2 linked regions of the Homo sapiens genome follow. The protein of the gene in region 2 purifies or fractionates together with the protein of the main gene of each other region. This does not show direct contact. Each region holds a gene or a part of one and is shown on either strand. Other genes may lie near its edges.

Evidence for each region. Proteins that work in one complex are often made in the same cells at the same time.
Region 1: the proteins of UBR7 (region 2) and DLAT purify together in Homo sapiens (affinity purification with mass spectrometry, with the first as the bait; one large-scale study listed by BioGRID). This does not show direct contact.

What each region holds. Positions count from the first base shown.
Region 1 is NC_000011.10:112,042,408-112,045,907, reverse strand, and holds part of DLAT (dihydrolipoyllysine-residue acetyltransferase component of pyruvate dehydrogenase complex, mitochondrial isoform 2 precursor), read right to left. Parts: intron 2,443-3,500; coding exon 2,375-2,442; intron 771-2,374; coding exon 678-770; intron 46-677; coding exon 1-45.
Region 2 is NC_000014.9:93,226,986-93,229,715, reverse strand, and holds the end of UBR7 (putative E3 ubiquitin-protein ligase UBR7), read right to left. Parts: coding exon 2,681-2,730; 3' UTR 501-2,680; downstream 1-500. UniProt on the Homo sapiens protein: E3 ubiquitin-protein ligase which is a component of the N-end rule pathway. Recognizes and binds to proteins bearing specific N-terminal residues that are destabilizing according to the N-end rule, leading to their ubiquitination and subsequent degradation.

The DNA.
Region 1 (3,500 bases), on a different chromosome or scaffold from region 2:
ATGAGGTATGGTTTGCTTTGATTGCATTAATCGCTGTGCAATAACCTGAAACCAAAGAGATTTAAAAAATCAATTATCTTGAGTTAAGACCTTAACTAATTTAGGGCTCTGTTTGTCTCTTCACCTTACTCTCTGCTAATACTTACCTCAAGCATTATTATAATTGAAAGATGGAGGACTCCGCCATAATATAACACCTCCTAGATTTTTTTTTTTTTTTGAGATGGAGTCTCGCTATGTTGCCCAGGCTGGAGTGCGGTGGTGCGATCTCGGCTCACCACAACCTCCATTTCCCAAGTTCAAGCAATTCTCCTGCCTCAGCGTCCCGAGTACTTGGGACTACAGGCATGTGCCACCATGCCCGGCTAATTTTTGTATCTTTAGTAGAGACGGGGTGTTTCACTATGTTGGCCAGGCTGGTCTCGAAGTCTGGACCTTGTGATCTGCCCGCTTTGGCCTCCCAAAGTGCTGGGATTACAGGCATGAGCTACTGCGCCTGGCCCTTCTAATAGGAACAAAGTGATTCAAGTATTCAGTTGGCCAAAACTTCCCTTAAAGTAATCATCCAATATTCCCAACTTAAAAAGCCTCTGTTAATGTGTTAAAAACTATGGAAGCAACTAAACAACCTAAAGATGCCCCTAACAGCTGATTCCAGATGATGGTAATTCTCTTACCCGACGAATGTTGCTGATTGGGATATCTGTGAAGACACCTGTAGGAACTGGTGCCATTCCAGGACCTGTGGGAGGCACAACAGCTGCCGGAGCCTATGGGAGGAAAGAAAAAGCTCTTAGTAACTGTGATTCAATCTTAGCGTAAGTACCTGGGAAAGACTGCCAGTGACTATGCAGTTTTTTTTTTTTGTCTTTTGAGACAGAGTCTTGCTCTGTCACCCAGGCTAGAATGCAGTGGCTCAATCATGGTTCACTGCAGCCTCAACCTCCTGGGCTCAAGCAATCCTCCCATCTCAGCCCCTAGAGTAGCTGGGACTACAGGTGCACGCCAACATGCCCAGCTAATTTTTTTGGATTTCTAGTAGAGACGGAAATTAGCCACGTTGCCCTGGCTGGTCTCAAATGCCTGGGCTCAAGTGATCCACCCACCTTGGCTTCCCAAAGTGCTGGGGTTACAAGCATGAGCCACCATGTCCAGTCTAAAAACTAAGCTTTATAGAATACCTATTTCTGTCCCCAGTGAGCAAAAGAGACTTCTGCTTGTTTTAAGAGTTTTAATTTTTTTACTTAGAATTCTGAAGTCATGTTTTAAGTGTCATTTTTCTTTGTATCAGAGTATGTTCAATGACCAGTTTGTGTCAAAATAATTTTGTTTTTGCAAAATTATGTTCAAGAAAAGCAATGGAAGCATTCTTAAGTTGCAAGGAATAATAAATAAGTATAAACAAGCTAATCCATTATCCTAAACAATGTTAAGAAAAGGGGGTTGGGAGGCTCACTTGAGCCTCACAATGACTCACTTGAGGCCAGGAGTTCGTGACCAGGCTGGCCAACATGGCGAAACCCTGTCTCTACTAAACATACGAAAATTAGCCAGGTGTGATGGCATGCACCTGTAGTCCCAGCCACCTGGGAGGCTGGGGCATGAGAATCGCCTGAATCCAGGAGGCAGAGGTTGCAATGAGCCAAGATCGCGCCACTGCACTCCAGCCTGGGCGACAGAGTGAGACTGTCTCAAAAACAAACAAACAAAAAAAACCAAACACCAAAAACAACTCATTCAACTGTACTTTAAAATATTTTGAAAAAGAAAAAAAGAACAAATCTTTTATTTCAAAGCAAAAACCGATTAACTAGCTCAAAACATAATGTGGAATACATGTCAATGTAGTATATCATCTTTGATCTTGTATATAAATGATAGCACACAAATATCTAAATACACTTGGCCCTCCATATCCATAAGTTCTGCATCACTGGATTCAACCAAAGGCAAATCAAAAATATTCCAGAAAAAAACAGATGGTTGCATCTGAACTGCACAAGTACAGACTTTTTGTCCTTATTATTATTTCCTAAGCAATAAAATATAACAACTATTTACATAGTATTTACCTTGTATTTAATATTATAAGTAATCTAGAGATGATTTAAAGTATTTGAGAGGATGTGGGTAAGTTATATACAAATACTACACTATTTTATATAAGAGACTTAAGCATTTGCGAATTTTGGTATACAAGGGGGCTCCTGGAACCAACCTCTCATGGGTACCGAGGGATGACTGTATTATTAAACCACTGAAATTAGAAGAAAACAATCTTGGTTGAGCTATTTCGTTCATAAATAATGTATGAAATGGTCTAACAGGCTGTAGAGACAAACTGCAAAAAAAGTAAGAGCTACACATAACTCACAGGAGCAACTTTACTAGGCACAAAAGAGTCGATATCCTTCTTGGTGATTCTACCATCTGGTCCTGTCCCTGTAAGAGACATAAATATCACATACATGATGACATACCATTGGTTCCCCAAGGAGATCAACGCTGTGATCCTAAACTGCAAGCTCCTAAGGGTTTACTACCAAAAACATTCTGAAAGGTTCACAGCCTTAACCCTACCCCTTAAGGTGCTACCTACAAATACCAGCTTTTGTCAACTATTAATTTTAATCCACACAGAGTACCAGTGTGTGATCTGGAGTGGGTCTTTTCTTTTTAACTACTGCAAATATTCCTTTATGTATTTCTCTTTTAGAGTTTTATCCAAGTTGTACTTAATTTTTTTCATCTTCCTTACTTTTAAATTGGGAAATGTGGCATAAGGATAATGCCGAGCACAGTTTATATCTCCAAAAGGGAAACTAGCTGCCTCCTCCTGGTTAGCTCCAAAAAACCATTCCTAAGCCGTGAAATAGATTTCATTTGGGTTCTGGATTTATGTGACCATAAAGAATTCCTTTTATACAGAATTTACAGGTATAACAATAATTGTTTTGACAAATCAAGTCGATTTTTTCACCCCAAAATAGCACGAATAACTCTTTACTGCAATTATCTTATCTTTAGAATCATTCATTCCTTATGTGGTCTCTATGACTCATAGCTTTTTCACAGTAGCCAAGGCTCTAAACTGGCCCGTGTTAAAGGAAATGAAGGAAAAAGGTGCAATGTCACACATGAGGAAGGATCTTCAAAGTTCTCTCAGTAGGTTTAATTTTACTTATATTCAATTTCCTCCCTCCTCCCACCTACAGCCTCTTAGGTTTAATTTTGGACCCAAGTAGATAATCTTGACCTTTAATTCTACGGAGATTCAGAATTTAGTTATTATTATAGAATACCTTTTACACTGGCCCACTTCTAGGAAAAATTTGGTCAAACTGATTCATCTTCCCCCAAGGCAGACTTTAAAAAGGACTCTTGTTGTGTGTAGTTCTTCCCAATTCCTTTCCTTCATTACGAAAACTGAGTTGGCTAGGATTGTATTTATCCTCACTAGGAGCTCTAGAACAGAGGTGGTAGTACCCCTATTAGATTTC
Region 2 (2,730 bases):
CTGGCTATTCACAGGTGCAACCACGGCACTCTATAGCCTCCAACTCCTGGGCTCAAGCAATCCTCCTGCATCAGCCTCCCAAGTAGCTGGGACTACAGGCGTGAACCTCCATGCCCGGCTCTATGCATTTTTTCTTTTTTTTTTTTTTTTGAGACAGTCTCGCTCTGTCGCCCAGGCTGGAGGGCAGTGGCGTGATCTCGGCTCACTGCAAGCTCTGCCTCCCGGGTTCACGCCATTCTCCTGCCTCAGCCTCCCGAGTAGCTGGGACTACAGTCGCCCGCCACCACACCCAGCTAATTCTTTGTATTTTTATTAGAGATGGGGTTTCACCATGTTAGCCAGGATGGTCTCGATCTCCTGACCTCGTGATCTGCCTGCCTCGGCCTCTCAAAGTGCTGGGATTACAGGCGTGAGCCACCGCGCCCTGCCTGCATTTTCTTAAAACCTGCAGAGGGAGGCTGTGTAGACTTAAATATACTAAAAACAATCTGAAAAGCAACTATTTTGTATTGGTTTTATTTAAATTTTACAGAAACCTGATCAGAGTTAAGTATGTAATTATAAGTCCAGTAACAATTTCTACAAAAATGCACATACAATGCCAGAACTCCTTAAAAGCAACTAATATCATATTTGTGTTTTGCATAAAACATGCATTAATATGTTGGCCAAAATCAGTCTCTACAAGAAGAGACAGTCCAATACAGTCAATAAGAAAACTAGTTGTGAACAACAGGTAAAAAAAGAGGTTTCCAGTTAATGTGAAAGAAGGAATAGTACCTTTCATAAAACAAGCCCTTCAGCGCTGAGTTAACTGATCGGTACTATTGTGCTGCACGTAATGTAACACATCACCTCCAAGACTTGGTCCTGATTGGTCATAGGAAGTAAGGGACTTTCTGGTAGTTACATCAGATATTTGAGAAGATTAAAAGTTTTCCGGACATGATGGTATACTAATAGTGCAACCTTGCAAAAAGGGTTCGAAACATTGTCAGACTTGGAAGAGTTCCCCAGCTTGATAAACAACCTCAAAGACACCCCGAGCCTTTGAACGGAGCCCTCTGCACAAGGCCAGCTCAGGGCTCACCAGCATGTCCTGTGGCCACAAGACCTTCCAGCTCCACATACCACCCTTCGTGAGGATCTGCAATTAGGAGCCTGAGTGCCGAAGAACATGGTTGTGCCATTTCTTTGAGGCTTTGACTTTTTATAAGGCCTAGTTCATCTCATCCAGGGATTGGGCACTCGAATGAATACACAGATGCTGGACACATAAGGAGTATTAATATACATGGTGGCCCCACAGCCTGAAATGCTTTTATTAACATACATCAAGGTGTGTCTCCGACTGTCAGGAAAGACCTTGGTCCTCCAGAGGCAGAGAGAAGCTGAGGGTTCTCTATGTATCACAAGGCATTTCCTACATAGACTGAGGGGTGTTAAAGAGATCTCATATCAACTGAAAGGACTTCCCCTCAAATGTGGGGCTCTGTACAACCTTCCATGAGGATCTTCAAAAAAAAGATCTCATAGTCGTTAGGGAAGTGGCGGTGGACATTAACATTATATACACAAAACTCATCATTCGTGCAGCCTCGGGCCTTGTTTGTAATCTCTTCCACAGTCTGTCTCTTCCAAAACAGGGCTCCCTGCCCTGCTTATTTCAAGTAAGCTAAGTCAGGATCTGTTTTCTTTAGCAGATTCAAGGGGGAAAAATAATAATTTATTGGGGTTCTAATAACATTTTCATAACAGAATATCAAAATAGGTCCATTTTTGATATATGCTTATGAATATCCCTGATAATATCAAGAAATCCAGAGGACTTCGTAAACCACCAAGATTTCACAGGGGTGAGACCCGGTCTGTTTTCTAGGCAGCAGAGAAGGGACTAGTATACGGGCAAATGTTCTCCAGGAAGCCCTGTGAGCACTACAGTACTGAAATTCTAATTCTAGTGCCAATAGAATCATGAACGAAAATTTCACTTGAACTGTATTAGTAAAATTCATAACAAAGGCTTGCTTCCTCAACCCTGTCATCTGTTAATCTCTCCGCCTGTGACAGACATCCAGACCAGAAAACCATCAGTCCTGGCTACTCTGGAGGTTGGGCCTAGAGAAAACAAGCCCCAAGATCCTTTCTAAGCTATGACCAAACCTCAGAAAACAGGGACGTGAAAGAAGGAGCAGACCAGGCTTGAGGAAGCTTTGACCCAAGGCACCACGATCATAGGGGCGAGGGGACCTGTAGAGGTTCTAGGTGACGGGAAGAGAGCCTTCCGTGATGCCTGCGGAGGAGGTTCTGGAAGGCAACAGCTCTGTGGCAAAACACACACATCTGGGAGTGAAATAACAGATCATTAAACAAGACACCAATTTGCTTTCTCAAAACAAAATCAAACTTAAAAACTATGCAAATAACCCTGGGTGCACTGGAGTAGGAGTACACTGGAGAAGTCTGTGGAATGAGCTGCATCAGCTGAGTCACAGAGGACGCTGGCTGTGAAGTCAGCATCCACACGGTGGCTACTGCAGCTAAAGAGAATGAAGGGAGCGCGAGGCCTCTCCAAACAGAGGAGGACGGAAAGGGGGCCAAATGTGAACCACACCTCTTTTATTCCAAGAATGGGAAGCGCATTTTCATTGGCTTGAATGAGAAAGCTTCATACTCCACTCTAGCTGCAGTAATACTGCATCCCATCCACTCTTCTTCTCTTTTTTGACT